Linked DNA regions of Homo sapiens: region 2 is reported to be linked to region 1. Evidence: microRNA targets listed by miRTarBase, many of them from high-throughput screens and not tested one by one. Region 1 holds a microRNA gene; the other region holds the end of a gene's coding sequence.

Region 1 (8,216 bases):
GGAGTAGGTCACAAGATCACATGCTTCAAAGGGCAAAAAGGAGAACAAAGATCACAAGGCAAAGGGCAAAAGTGGAACTCCTGATAAGGGTCTGTGTTCAGCGGTGCATGTATTGTCTTGATAAACATCTTAAACAACAGAAAACAGGGTTCCAGAGCAGAGAACCAGTCTGACCAAAAATTTACCAGGGTGGGGTTTCCCAATCCTAGTAAGCCTGAGGGTACTGCAGGAGACCAGGGCGTATTTCAGTCCTTATCTCAACCACATAAGACAGGCACTCCCAGAGCAGCCTTCTGTAGACCTCCCCCCAGGAATGCATTCCTTTCCCAGAGTATTAATTCTTGCTAGGAAAAGAATTTAGTGATATCTTCCCTACTTGCACGTCCGCTTATAGGCTCTCTGCAAGAAGAAAAATATGGCTGTATTTTGCCTGACCACACAGGCAGTCAGACCTTATGGTTGTCTTCCCTTGTTCCCTGAAAATCACGATTATTCTGTTCTTTTTCAAGGTGTACTGATTTCATATTGTTCAAACGCACGTTTTACAGTTTGTACAGTTAACACAATTATAGTGGCCCTGAGGTGATGTACATCCTCAGTTTATGAAGATAACAGGATTAAGAGATTAAAGTAAGACAGGCTTAAGAAATTATCAAAGTATTATTTGGAAACTGGTAAATGTCCATGAAATCTTCACAATTTATGTTCCTTTGCCACAGCTCCAGCCGGTCCATCTGTTCAGGGTCCCTGACTTCCCACAACACCTGGCTTCTATTACTTTTTTAAAATTAGCTTTTTTCTTTTTTTCGAGATGGAGTCTCACTCTGTTGCCCAGGCTGGAATACATGGTGTGATCTTGGCTCACTGCAGCCGCCGCCTCCTGGGTTCAAGCGATTCTCTTGCCTCAGCCTCTCGAGTAACTGGGACTGCAGGTGCAATACAAAAAATGCAGAACTTTTGTATTTTCTGTAGAGATGGGGTTTCGCTGTGTTGTCCAGGCTGGTCTCAAACTCCTGAGCTCAAGTGACATGCCCACCTTGGCCTCTCAAAGTTCTGGGATTATAGGCATGAGCCACTGCATCCAGCCTTATTATTATTATTTTTTTTTGAGATGGAGTCTTGCTCTGTCGCCCAGGCTGGAGTGCAGTGGCGCGATCTCGGCTCACTGCAACCTCTGCCTCCCGGATTCAAGCGATTTTCCTGCCTCAGCCTCCTGAGTAGCTGGGACTACAGGCATGCGCCATCACACCGAGGTAATTTTTGTATTTTTTGGCAGAGACAGGGTTTCACCATGTTGACCAGGCTGGTCTTGAACTCCTGACCTCAAGCCATCTGCCCACCTTGGCCTCCCAAAGTTCTGGGATTATTTTTTAAGCAGTTTTGATAGGTGTGTACCTAGTAGTGCTCTGTGGTTTAATTTGCATTTCCCAGGGAGTGGGGGCACTGCCTGTCTTCTCACGCCTCAGTTGCTTGTTGCTGTGACGGTCGCCCACTCCTCCTGCCAGTGTCTGTGCTGCTCACGGTAGCTGCATCAGCTTCACGCTGTCCGCCCTTCGCCACCCACCGCGCCTGCTGCTCAGGAATGTTCCAAGCAACTTGGTGGTAACAGAAGCTGAGAACAGCCCAGATGTCCTTCGGTGCAAGAGTGGATGGATCAGTTGTGGTCTATTCACAGAATAGAATGTGACCACACTGGAGATGAATGAATTGTAGCTACAATCTGCAGTGTAGACGAATCTTAGGAACGTAGGCGTTTCAGAAGCAGATCAAGCCAGGCACGATGCTGTGTGCCTATAGTCCCAGCTACTCAGAGCCTGAAGGTGGGAGATCACTTCAGCCTGGGAGTTTGAGGCCAGCCTGGGCAACATAGCAAGACCCTGTCTCAAAGGAAAAAAAAAGCAGATTACAGAAAAGTAAATCCAGTGCTAGGCCGTATTTTTAAGCTCAAAAAATTAAAACTAATTAGCGTTTAGGGATAAACATGAGGTAATTTTTTAGAAGCAAGAGAATAGCATTGAATTTAAGGTATATATGGGGAAAATGAAACTTCCAAGTTATTGATAATTTTCCAGTTTTTAAATTAGAGACGGGATCATGGTGTTTATGCGTCATAATTTATATGTTCCATATATTTTTTGTTGTTTTTTTGAGACGGAGTCTCGCTCTGTCACCCATGCTGGAGTGCAGTGGCGCGATCTCGGCTCACGGCAAGCTCTACCTCCCAGGTTTACACCATTCTCCGCCTCAGCCTCCCGAGTAGCTGGGACTACAGGCGCCCACCACCATGCCTGGCTAATGTTTTTGTATTTTTGTAGAGACGGGGTTTCACTGTGTTAGCCAGGATGGTCTCGATCTCCTGACCTTGTGACCCGCCCGCCTTGGCCTCCCAAAGTGCTGGGATTACAGGCGTGAGCCACCACGCCCGGCTGATATGTTCCATATATTTCTTTCTGTATTTCACATAATACATAGTAAAATATTTAAAACAGAACAAAAATAGACTTCCTTTTAAGATGTTTTCATATCTGTTCTTACAAAGTTGGCCACAGTTTTTCCCCAACAGTAGTTTGAGTTCAGCAGCAGCTCTTTTATAAAACGTTTGCTGCACACACTGAGATTGCACCTGGAAGTACAGAAATAAGAACACACGTATTTTATTTTATTTTTTTACCCCTGAAGATCTTTAAGTCTTCTGAGGAGCATGGACCTGCTAGACTGCAAGCTGCTGCATTCTGAGGAGCAGGGACCTGCTAAACTGCAAGCTGCCGCAGGCGGAGATTTTTGCCTGTTTGGTTTATTTTGTTACCACTGAGTCCCCAGCTCTGAGAACAGAGCGAGGCATGTGATCGATGCATCGTAACTGTTGAGCAAATGAATGCTGAGCTGTGATGGCACCGACGTGTCCGGGGAGAGGACGCACCCGGCTGTGTGGACATGTGCCCAGGGCCCAGGACAGCGCCACGGAAGAGGACACACCCGGCTGTGTGGACATGTGCCCAGGGCCCGGGACAGCGCCACGGAAGAGGACGCACCCGGCTGTGTGCACATGTGCCCAGGGCCCGGGACAGCGCCACGGAAGAGGACGCACCCGGCTGTGTGCACATGTGCCCAGGGCCCGGGACAGCGCCACGGAAGAGGACGCACCCGGCTGTGTGCACATGTGCCCAGGGCCCGGGACAGCGCCACGGAAGAGGACGCACCCGGCTGTGTGGACATGTGCCCAGGGCCCGGGACAGCGCCACGGAAGAGGACGCACAGGACAGCGCCACGGAAGAGGACGCACCCGGCTGTGTGCACATGTGCCCAGGGCCCGGGACAGCGCCACGGAAGAGGACGCACCCGGCTGTGTGCACATGTGCCCAGGGCCCGGGACAGCGCCATGGAAGAGGACGCACCCGGCTGTGTGCACATGTGCCCAGGGCCCGGGACAGCGCCACGGAAGAGGACGCACCCGGCTGTGTGCACATGTGCCCAGGGCCCGGGACAGCGCCACGGAAGAGGATGCACCCGGCTGTGTGGACATGTGCCCAGGGCCCGGGACAGCGCCACGGAAGAGGACGCACCCGGCTGTGTGGACATGTGCCCAGGGCCCGGGACAGCGCCACGGAAGAGGACGCACCCGGCTGTGTGGACATGTGCCCAGGGCCCGGGACAGCGCCACGGAAGAGGACGCACAGGACAGCGCCACGGAAGAGGACGCACCCGGCTGTGTGGCAGGGGAGGTTCCCAAGAGCAGGCTCAGGGCTCTGGGGTCTGAGTGAGGGCTCTCCAGCCAGCAGGGAGCAGGGCAGGGTGTTGAAGAGACGGCAGGTGCGTCAGGGGCTGACGTGGGACCCGGCACTCTGTGCTCTGTGTCTGCCCGGGAACAGGTAGTCCTGCGTCGGACCGGGAAGTGTGGTGGGTGTGGTGGGGGAAGGGGCTGGCGTCAGCAGGGCTCTCGTCCGCCAACGTCTGGTGGGGATGCCCGCCATGCGGGGGCCTCAGGCTACAGCCAGGGCTGTGAAGGAGCCGAGGTCATAGAGTGGCTGCCCTGGCGTAGGGAGGGAGGACACGGGTCCCCGCCATTTCAGAAGCTCAGCGTCCCTGCACGTGTGCGGTCTTGTCTGCCTAGGCATGTGTGCGGGCCCTGGGGCTGCTGCCAGCAGAACGGACTGGGATACGCTGGATTTGTAAAACGTGACCCTTTTTGTTTGCTTTTAATTTTTAATTTTTATTTATTTATTTATTTTTGAGACTGAGTCTGACTCTGTCACCCAGGCTGGAGTGCAGTGGTGAGATCTCGGCTCACTGCAACCTCCCCCTCGAGGGTTCAAGCGATTCTCCTGCCTCAGCCTCCTGAGTAGCTGGGATTACAGGTGTGTGCCACCACACCCAGTTAATTTTGTATTTTTAGTAGAGACAGGTTTTCTCCATGTTGGTCAGGCTGGTCTCGAACTCCTGGCCACAAGAAGCAATCCACCTGCCTCAGCCTCCCAAAGCCTTGTTTGCTTTTTTTTATTTTGTTTTGTTTTGAGACGGAGTTTCACTATTGTTACGCAGACTGGAGTGCAACGGCACGGTCTCAGCTCGCTGCAAACTCCACCTCCCGGGTTCAAGTGATTCTTCTACCTCAGCCTCCTGAGTAGGTGGGATTACAGGCATGTGCCATCACGCCCGGCTAATTTTGCATTTTTAGTAGAGATGGGGTTTCTCCATGTTGGTCAGGCTGGCCTCAAACTCCTGACCTCAGGTGATCCGCCCTCCTCAGCCTCCCAAAGTTTTGGGATTACAAGCTTGAGCCACCGTGCCCGGCCACCTTGTTTGCTTTTTAAAGATAATGATGTCACTAAAAGAGTTCTGACTGAGGCCGGGCCTGGTGGCTCACACCTGTAATCCCAGCACTTTGGGAGGCCGAGGCTGGTGGATCACGAGGTGTGGTGATCAAGACCATCCTGGCTAACACGGTGAAACCCCGTCTCTACTAAAACTGCAAAAAATTAGCCGGGCGTGGTGGCGGGTGCCTGTAGTCCCAGCTACTCAGGAGGCTGAGGCAGAAGAATGGCGTGAACCCGGGAGGCGGAGCTTGCAGCAAGCCGAGATAGTGCCACTGCACTCCAGCCTGGGAGACAGAGCGAGACTCCGTCTCAAAAAAAAAAAAAAAGAGTTCTGACTGAAGGTTGGAACTTAGCCCTCCAGAAATGAAGACTGCGAATAACGCTGATGGCAGCTCGTCACTTGCAGCAGGTTGCAGCACGTGCTGCTCGTGTAGCTGCGGCTGCACACCAGGCCTCTCCTTTAACTGTGTTATAACCTTTCTGTTGACATGGGATCCCCTTGAAAGTTTTTTTTTTGGAGACAGGGTCTCACTCTGTCACCCAGGCTGACGTCCAGTGGTGCAATTTCAGTTCACTGCAACCTCCTCCTCCCGGGTTCAAGCCATCCTCCTGCCTCAGCCTCCCAACTAGCTGGGATTACAGATGCACACCGTCACACCCAGCTAATTTTTGTATTTGTAGTAGAGATGAGGTTTCACCACGTTGGCCAGGCTGGTCTCAAACTCTTGATCTCAGGTGATTCAACCACCTCAGCCTCCCAAAGTGCTGGAATTACAGGCGTGAGCCACCACTCCCGGCCCCCTTGAAATTTAAACCAAGTTTAGGAAGAATGAAGTTGTGAGGTGCTACTTCAAACATCAGGTGGCAAACTCCCGGACTCATTACCCCAAGGAAATAGGCAGTCCAGGTTGGTGGCTCACGCCTGTAATCCCAGCACTTCGAGAGGCCGAGGCAGGCGGGTCACCTGAGGTCAGGAGTTCAAGACTATCCTGGCCAACATGGTGAAGCCCATCTGTACTAAAAATACAAAAAAATTAGCTGGGTGTGGTGGCGCGCGCCTGTAATCCCAGCCACTTGGCAGGCTGAGGCAGGAGAATCGCTTGAACCTGGGTGGTGGAGGGTGCATGGAGCCAAGATTGCACCATTGCACTCCATCCAGTTTGGGTGACAGAGTGAGACTCTGTCTCAAAAAAAAAAAAAAAATAGACATCAGAAAGGGTTGGCTCCTGTGATCTCGGCACTTTGGTGACCATGACCCAAGGCAGGAGGATCACTTGAGCCAAGGAATTCAAGATCAGCCTGAGCAACATAGACCCCGTCTCTGCAAAAAATTTCTAAAAACTTAGCTGGCATGGTGGCTCACGCCTGTAGTCCCACCTATTCAGGAGGCTGTGTTGGGAGGATCACTTGAGTCTGAGAGGTTGAGGCTGCCATGATCCCTTATCACACCACTGCATTCCAGCCTGGGTGACAGAGCAAGACCCTGTCTCCAAACAAACAAAAAAGCAAAAAATGGTGTTTTACCTAGGTATTTACCATTTCCAGTGGTCTTCATTCCTTTCTAAAAATCTAGGTTTTAGCCGGACATGGTGGCTCATGCCTGTAATCCCCAGCACTTTGGGAGGCTGAGGCGGGTGGCTCACCTGAGGTCAGGAGTTCCAGACCAGCCTAGCCAACATGGCAAAACCCAATCTCTACTAAAAATACAAAAATTAGCCAGGCGTGGTGGTACGTGCCTGTAGTCCCAGCTATTCAGGAGGCTACGGCAGGAGAATCGCTTGAGCCTGGAAGGTGGAGGTTGCAGTGAGCTGAGATTGCACCACTGCACTCCAGCCTGGGCAACAGAGTGAGACTCTGTCTCAAAAAAGAAAAAAAAAAGAATAAGTCACATTTTGGTGAGGAGCAGTGGCTTGCACCTATAATCCTGGCACTTTGGGAGGCTGAGGCAGGAGGATCACTTGAGACCAGCCTGGGCAACAAAGCCAGACCGTGTCTCTATAGAAAATTTTAAAGTTAGCTGGGCATGGTGGCACATTCCTGTAGTCTTAGCTGCTTGGGATGCTGAGAAGGGAGGCTTTCTTGAGTCCAGGATTTCAAGGCTGCAGTGAGCCAAGATCGCACCACTGCACTCCAGCCTGGGCAACAGAGAAAAACCTTGTTTCTAAAAAAAAAAATTAGGCTGGGTAGGGTGGCTCACACCTGTGATCCCAGCACTTTGGGAGGCTGTAGCAGGCGGATTGCTTGAGTCTGGGAGTTTGAGACCAACAAGATCCTGACTCTATAAAAATTTTAAAAAATAGCTGGGCGTGGTATTGCACACCTGTAGTCCCAGCTACTCAGGAGGCTGAGGTGGGGGGATCAGCTGAGCCCAGGAGGTCAAGGTTGCAGTGAGCTGAAATGTGACCACTGCACTCCAGCCCGGGCAATAAAGTCAGGCGGGGAAAAGAAAGAATGAGTTAACATTTTCTCAGCTTTATGTGTTGAGTGATTTTGGATTCTATCCTGAAATGGTAAGAATGAAAAGAAAATCTGCCAAGTCCATCCGTTCCTACACTCTCACTGCCTCCAAGTCATTCTGCGCTCTTGAGCCAGAACGACCTGGCCGTTTTTAAAAATGGAGTTTTTTGCCTTAGTAATTGACTTGTGTAAGAGTTCTTTATTCCACTTGTGAATTGTTTTTTATACGTACATAATGTAAATATTTTCTCCCCTTCTGTGCCTTTCAGTATGAATCTATCTGAACTCGATTCTGCTGTTGTGTGTGTGTCTTTTCCTCAGTACCAGATGGTCTTGATTACTGTAGATATATAGTATATGTCTTGAAATCAATAGGGTAAATTCTCTAACTTTTGTTCTTTTTATTAATGTTGCTGTGGCTAATCTGTCTGCTACATTTCCTTATACATTTAAAAAAATCAGTATCAGTTTCTGCAAAAAAAAATCCTCTTGGATTAGGGTTAGGCTTCTGTCAAGTCTACAGATCAGTTTGGGGAGAACTGACTTCTTTATATCGAGGCTTCTAATCCGTGAACATGAGGAATCTTTTTCTTATCTTTAGTATCTTAGCAATTTGTGGTTTTCAACGTACAGATTTCATAGGTCTTGTTATTTCTTTTTCTTTTTTTGAAACAAGGTCTCACTGTGTCACCCAGGCTACAGTGTGGTGGCACGATCATGGCTCACTGCAGCCTCGAGCTTCTGGGCTCAGCCATCCTCTTATCTCAACCTCCTGTGTCACTAGGACCACAGACATGAGCCACCATGCCTATTTAACTTAAAAACAAAAACAAAAAACCGGGCACGGTGGCTCATGCCTGTAATCGCAGCACTTTGGGAGGCCGAGGGGGGGATTGACTGAGGCCAGGAGTCCGTGACCAGCCTGGACAACATGGCAAAACCCTG
Region 2 (7,564 bases), not on the chromosome of region 1:
ATACAGAGAGGATCAGCATGGCCCCTGCGCAAGGATGACACACAAATTCATGAAGCAGTCCGTATTTTAATTTTAAAAAAAATGAGTTTCACAGGCTGAGCGTGTGTGGCCAGAGCCGGACTAGAACCAGATCTTCTGGGGCAAAGGGGCGAGGGGAATGAATGACATTTATCCAACACCTAGTTGTTTTTTCCCTTTAGCAGGAAGTCATTATGCAACTTACACATATTCATCAGATTTCCTCTGACTTACCCGGACATGTACATGGGAATGATGTGCACTGCCAAGAAATGTGGGATTAGGTTTCAGCCTCCAGCTATTATCTTAATCTATGAGAGTGAAATCAAGGGGAAAATTCGCCAGCGCATTATGCCAGTTCGAAACTTTTCAAAGTTTTCAGGTACCTCATGTCTTATCTTGCCTCCTGTCTTAAATATTCTCTAAATACAGGTTCACATCATGACTCTGTCAGGGACTGGATGTGTGACACTGGATGAATTACTTACTCTCAGTGAGCTTCAGTTTCCTAATCTATAAAAGGGAATTGTAGTGTTTTTTTCCAATCTGATAATTAATAATCCTTTTGGGATTGCTGCCTAGGTTAAATGATATAGCATTATTCAATAATATTAATTCCCTTCTCTCATTCCAAATGTTTTTTATTTGTAGTCTTAATATTTTATTAATACCACTACTGCTATCTAAAAGCTATAATATCACTTTTCTTCTCAGACATATTCTCCAGTTGAAAGTGTTTAATATCTCTACAAAGTGATTTTTAAGTTAAAGAAGTCAAAACTGTATCTGTCCTTCTCCCACCACACTGAAAGCTCAATATAAAGGAATGGTTCTACAAAGTAATTCATTCCAATCAAGCCATTTAGCTACTTGACTATAATGGAGATAATATTTTCAGGGTTCAGAGTTTTTGTTCTGTTTTGGCTGTTGCAGTAGTTTATGGCGTATATGATGTACGTGGTACGTATGTGGTATATAGTTTTCTTCTCTCTCCCAGATTGCACCAGAGCTGCTGAACAATTAAAGAATAATCCGCGACACAAGAGTTACCTAGAACAAGTATCCCTGAGGCAGCTAGAGAAGCTATTCAGTTTTTTACGAGGTTACTTGTCGGGGCAGAGTCTGGCAGAAACAATGGAACAAATTCAACGGGAAACAACCATTGATCCTGAGGAAGACCTGAACAAACTAGATGACAAGGAGCTTGCCAAAAGAAAGAGCATCATGGATGAACTTTTTGAGAAAAATCAGAAGAAGAAGGATGATCCAAATTTTGTTTATGACATTGAGGTTGAATTTCCACAGGACGATCAACTGCAGTCCTGTGGCTGGGACACAGAGTCAGCTGATGAGTTCTGATACCAAACACTCAAAACATGCATTGGGCTAGCAGAATATCCATGTTTATTACCAGACTGGTTCTGGAAGAAGCTGTAAAGAATACTAAATATGTTGGGTTATAGGGGATTGACCATGTTACTTTTCAAAACCAGGACATTTAAAGCATCTACTATGTAGGTGCATGAGGAGTATGGGAAAAACAGAATAAAGGAATCTGCCTTTAAGGAGCTTACAATCATGCCGGGTGCGGTGGCTCACGCCTGTAATCCCAGCACTTTGGGAGGCTGAGGCGGGTGGATCACCTAAGGTCAGGAGTTCGAGACCAGCCTAGCCAACATGGTGAAACCTCGCCTCTACTAAAAATACAAAAATTAGCCAGGCGTGGTGGCGGGTGCCTGTAATCCCGGCTACTCAGGAGGCTGAGGCAGGAGATTCGCTTGAACCTGGGAGGCTGAGGTTGCAGTGAGCCGAGATCGCGCCATTGTACTCCAGCCTGGGCGATGAGCAAAACTCCATCTCAAAAAAAAAAAAAAAAAAAAGCTTACAATCTGACTGGAAGATGTCAAAACCTGTGAAAAGCTAATTAGCAGTATTAAGCAACACAAACATTAGTGCCAAATGCATGATAAAGGCTAAAGAAGGCCAGAGCATATATTACTGTAGAGTAGAATAGTAAGGGAAGACTTTGTCCTTTAGTAAAGAGATAGGAGGTGGCCTGGCCCTTGAAATAGTAGTGTTTAGGTAGATGCTTGTGTAGGATTCCTGATAAGAGCAACTGAAAAGAAGGAGAGGGGAAGTAGTAAAGGGACAAGAAACAATTTTTTTTTTGAGGAACCATAAGCAAATTATAGTTTGACAAGACAAGATTGGGGGACATATATGGTTACCAGGGAATTACCTCTTATGTGTTATATCTTTATATTATTTATCTCTGGAAAAGAGTACCCTGCAAAATTCCCTACAGCTGCAAGCAGATGTCACTTGATGGACAGAGGGGGAATTCTGCCCCTCCGGTATCGGGAAATACATACTAAAGACATTGCGAAACGCTGAACCTCTTCCCATAAATAAAAGGTTTGTTTGTAAAATGGGAAATCCACCCATAATAAATGAACAATAGGCACTGCCAGTTTAGGCCTGTTCATGAATGGATCTGCAAGACAGCATCTTCGTTTAACAACATTATCTGTGATTTGATACATTTATCCTTATTACAATATTGTTTAGTTGGTAGAAATTCTATGTTTTCTACAAGGAAATTGATGTTTATTAAATAAAACTGAAAATAATTACTCAGTGTTTCTACCTGTTCACTTCCACTCTCCTTACCATTAAGCACTTCATTAAAAGGGAGCTCATTCTTGTAGTGATATCACCAGAGTTTTGAAATAGTCAGATCTCATACATACAGTAGCCAAAGGGAGCCAAATAATTTTCTGAATTAGAGATCTTTCCATATCTACATAGTATTCCTTTATTCTTTATTGTATAGATATAGGTAGTTTATTTTTTATTTGAGACAGGGTCTCACTCTGTCACCCAGGCTGGAGTGCAGTGGCATGATCACAGCTCACCAAAGCCTCAACCTCCTGGGCTCAAGTGAGCCTCCCCTCTCAGCCTCCCAAGTAGCTGTGAGTACAGGTGCCCACCACCACACCTGGCTAATTTTTGTATTTTTTGTAGAGACAGGGTTTCACCATGTTGCCTAGGCTTGTCTGGAACTCCTGGGCTCAAGTGATCCACCCACCTCAGCCTACCAAAGTGCTAGGATTACAGATGTGAGCCACTGTGCCTGGCTATAGGTAACTTATTTTAAAATTTGTCCTTGGGTTGCTGGGCGCAGTGGCTCATGCCTGTAATCCCAGCACTTTGAGAGGCTGAGGCGGGCAGATCACGTGAGGTTGGGAGTTCAAGACCAGCCTGACCAACATGAAGAAACCCCGTCTCTACTAAAAATACAAAATTAGCCGGGTGTGGTGGTGCATGCCTGTAATCCCAGCTACTCCGGAGGCTGAGGCAGGAGAATCGCTTGAACCCGGGAGGTGGAGGTTGTGGTGAGCCGAGGTCATGCCATTATTGCACTCCAGCCTGGGCAACAAGAGTGAAACTCTGTCTCAAAAAAAAAAAAAAAAATTTATCCTTGGGTTGTTTTCTCCTTTCATGACTACAAACAGTGCTACAACAAATAACCTTGTACATTCTCTGTTTTGCACATATGCAAGGATATCTATTAGATAAATGCCTAAAGGGGAATTACTAAGTATGTGCATTCTAAGTTTTAATAGATACTAAGTTGTCACCAATAGACGTTCATTCATTCATTATTTGTAGTTAATAAGCACTTACTACATTCTAAGCCTGTACTGTTCTGGAGTTTGGGGTTACAGCAGTATATACAGCAAAGTCCTGGGTTTACAGTTGGAGAGCAGAGACATAAATGCATAGAATAGTGTCATCAGATGGTAAGTGCTCAAAATGGGATGAAAAGGAGAATGATAGAGGGGATGGGAGCCACTGTTTTAGATCACATGATGAGCAAAGGCCTGAAGGAGGCAAGGAAAAATTGGTATGCATTTCAGGATTAGCGGGGAAAGGTAAGTGTATTAGCCCTGGGGCTGGAGTGTGCCTTGCATGTTTGAGGAGGAGCAGGAGGCCAATGTGGCTAATACAAATTGTGCAAGAGAAGAAATGGTAGGAGATGAGGTTGGAGTGCATTTTACCAATGCGTAGTACTTACCACGAAGGTTGTACCAACTTAAACTATCAGCAATACATTTGAGTACCCATTTCCCCCATATACTCATCAATGGAGAATGTTATCAAACTTTTTGAGTTTTGCCAATATTCTAATATAAAAATGGTATCTTATAGTTTTGATTTGCATTTCTCTTATTTTGAGGGGGTCTGAGTATCATATATTTAAGAACCATTTTTTTTTTTTTTTTAGACTGAGTCTCGCTCTGTCGCCAGGCCAGAGTGCAGTGGTGCGATCTCAGCTCACTGCAACCTCACTGCAACCTCTCAGCTCACTGCAGCCCTCCTGGGTTCAAGCAATTCTCCCACCTCAGCCTCCTGAGTAGCTGGGACTACAGGCATGCACCACCATGCCAGGCTAATTTTTGTATTTTTAGTAGAGACAGGGCTTCACCATGTTGGCCAGGATGGTCTTGATTTCTTGACCTCATGATCCGCCCACCTCGGCCTCCCAAAGTGCTAGGATTACAGGCGTGAGCCACCGCACACGGCCAAGACCCATTTTTTATGAAATAACTTAAGTCCTTTGTTCATTTTTTTATTGGGTTGCTGGTCTTTTTCTTACAGATTTATAAAAGTTGTTTATCAAGGAAATTAGTCCTTAGTCTATGAAATAAGTTGCAAATATTTCCACCTTGTCATTTAAAAAAATTTGATATTTTTTCCTGGTAGAATTGTTTAATGTGGTAAAATTTATGAATATTTTTCTCTACACATCTGCACCTTTTGTCATACGTAGAAAGGCATTCCCCACAAGATTTTTCTTTTCTTTTTTTTTTTTTTTTGAGATGGAGACTCACTCTGTTGCCCGGGCTGGAGTGTAGTGATGTGATCTTGGCTCACTGCAACCTCTGCCTCCCAGATTCAAGCGATTCTCCTGCCTCAGCCTCTCCAGTAGCTGGGACTGCAGGCGCCCGCCACCACGCCTGGCTAATTTTTGTATTTTTAGTAGAGATGAGGTTTCGCCATGTTGGCCAGGCTGGTCTCAAACTCCTGACCTCAGGTGATCCACCCGCCTTGGCCTCCCAAGGTGCTGGGATTACGGGCATGAGCCACTGCACCCGGCCATGAAATATTTTTTTTTAAAGCAGCTCTATAGAGACAGAAAGCAGATGAGGGCTGCCTGGGGCTGCGGATGGGAATTGATTATGGCTGCCTGGGGCTGGGGATGAGAATTGATTATGGCTGCCTGGGGCTGGGGATGGGAATTGATTATGGCTGCCTGGGGCGGGGGATGGGAATTGATTATGGCTGCCTGGGGCTGCGGATGGGAATTGATTATGGCTGCCTGGGGCTGGGGATGGGAATTGATTATGGCTGCCTGGGGCTGCGGATGGGAATTGATTATGGCTGCCTGGGGCTGGGGATGGGAATTGATTATGGCTGCCTGGGGCTGGGGATGGGAATTGATTATGGCTGCCTGGGGCTGAGGATGGGAATTGATTATGGCTGCCTGGGTCTGGGGATGGGAATTGATTATGGCTGCCTGGGGCTGGGGATGGGAGATGATTTTTTGGAGGTTGATGCAAACACTTTAAAACTGGATTGTGTCTTGTTTTCACAATTCTATAAATTCACTGAATTGATTTGTGCACTTAAAAACAGGTAAATGTTATGGTATATACTGAGCTATATAAATTATGTCTCGATAAAGCTGTTAAAAAATAGAAAACAAATGTCTGCAGACCATTGTTTGAAGACTGAGCAAGGGGGACCAAAAATACATGTAAAAATTCCTTGCGCCCACACAAAGGTGGAGGTTGAAAAAGGCTGGAGAAGGGACAGAATAAATGCATTTATTCAGTAAACACTTTTGAGTATTTACTCTGTGGAAACTCCTCAGGATGTCTGGAAACAGACAGCTTTCAAGGAGAAGGAAGAACAAGACAAAAGACTGATGTAGTTATGGTCAGGTCAGTTTATGATGCCGACAGCAGGTTGAGGTTAACGATTTCTGTGTTCCCCTAAATGGCGCAAGCAGAGCCATGGGATTAGAGCGAGATGGGAAGAAGCATAGGAGAGAGGGAGTAGTTAGGGTGAAAAGAGCAGGTGAGCAGAGGACCTTTTTTCAGATGCAAGGCTAAGGTTGGATATGTTCAACATAGATGGAGAAAGTATATTCTGGGGATGTCAAACAAAAATGGATAATCCAGGAGTTACTTTTTTTTTTTTTTTTTTTTTTGAGATGGAATCTAACTTTGTCGCCCAGGCTGGAGTACAGTGGTGAGATCTTGGCTCACTGCAACCTCCACCTCCCAGGTTCAGTGATTCTCCTGCCTCAGCCTCCCGAGTAGCTGGGATTACAGGCACCCGCCACCATGCCTGGCTAATTTTTGTATTTTTAGTAGAGATGTGGTTTCACCATGTTGGTCAGGCTGGTCTTGAACTCCTGACCTCAAGTGATTCGCCCGCCTCGGCTTCCCAAAGTGCTGGGATTCCAGGCGTGAGCCACCGCACCCAGCTAATTTTTTATTTTTAGTAGAGACGTGGTTTCATGTTCGTCAGGATGGTCTCAAACTCCTGACCTTGTGATCCGCCCACCTCGGCCTCCCAAAGTGCTGGGATTCCAGGCGTGAGCCATTGCACCCGGCCAGGAGTTAGAAATTAAAAAGAATCTCCCCCATCCTCACCATCTCCCCTGAAAAAACAACCGACAAACTAACAAAAGAACTTCCCATGGTCAAATTTACAAGAAGAGACCGTTAATGGTTAAATTAGCGACCTTCAAGCTGAAAAGTGTTTATAAAGTCTTCCTCTCAATGGTCCACCATTTCACACTATAGCAGATACTGCTGATTACCTACTCAACATCCTTAATCTCCTTCTTTATTGCCTGCAGAAGTCCAATTTTGTTGTTCAAGTATAAGCCTCCCACACAAGTCTCAGATCCGGAGGCAAATCCTGACTGATCTAAATAAATCTCTGGGCACGGTGTGCTCATGCCTGTAATCCCAGCACTTTGAGAAGCCGAGGTGAGAGGATTGCTTGAGGCCTGGAGTTCAAGACCAGCCTGGGCAATATAGTGAGAGTGCTCCCTGCCCATCTCTACAGAAATTTTAAAAAATTAGCACACCTGTAGTTCCAACTACTTGGGAGGCTGGGGCAGGAGGATTGCTTGAGCCAGGAGTTCAAGGCCGCAGTGAGCTATGATTATTCCACTGCACTCCAGGCTGGGTGAGAGACAGAATGACGCTGTCTCTAAAAGAAATAAAGAATAGGCCAGGTGCAGTGGCTCATGCCTATAATCCCAGCACTTTGGGAGGCTGAGGTGGGCAGATCACCTGAGGTTGGGAGTTTGAGACCAGCCTGACCAACATGGAGAAACCCCGTCTCTACTAAAAATACAAAATTAGCCAGGCATGGTGGCACATGCCTGTAATCCCAGCTACTTGGGAGGCTGAGACAGGAGAATCGTTTGAACCTGGAAGGCAGAGGTTGCAGTGAGCCGAGA

Evidence for each region. Region 1 holds the annotated microRNA hsa-miR-941 (CACCCGGCUGUGUGCACAUGUGC, at 3,030-3,052, shown strand). A microRNA usually pairs through its seed, bases 2 to 8, with sites in the 3' UTR of a target mRNA and lowers its output. Matches are read on the target gene's strand: a 7mer-m8 pairs with bases 2 to 8, a 7mer-A1 pairs with bases 2 to 7 and ends in A, and an 8mer does both.
Region 2: the mRNA of CEP19 is a reported target of hsa-miR-941. Seed matches in the 3' UTR shown: 7mer-m8 at 1,599-1,605.

The regions. Positions count from the first base shown.
Region 1 is chr20:63,916,466-63,924,681 of GRCh38, forward strand. It overlaps MIR941-1 (microRNA 941-1), which reads left to right and starts at 2,984; the gene lies at 2,984-3,055. The region is part of intron 1 of DNAJC5 (DnaJ heat shock protein family (Hsp40) member C5); the gene reads left to right. It overlaps LOC124904951, which reads left to right and starts at 1,294. Exons shown (of 1, transcript XM_047440634.1): 1 at 1,294-3,970. The coding sequence starts at 2,935. The coding sequence ends at 3,873. MIR941-2 (microRNA 941-2) reads left to right here and starts at 3,040; the gene lies at 3,040-3,111. It also overlaps MIR941-3, MIR941-4 and MIR941-5. RefSeq lists an enhancer at 3,289-3,991.
Region 2 is chr3:196,701,364-196,708,927 of GRCh38, reverse strand. It overlaps CEP19 (centrosomal protein 19), which reads left to right. Exons shown (of 3, transcript NM_032898.5): 2 at 201-400; 3 at 1,016-2,651. The coding sequence starts at 271. The coding sequence ends at 1,377. It also overlaps the pseudogene RNU6-646P. Among named protein-coding and RNA genes, the nearest start is that of CEP19, 7.1 kb to the left of the region's middle.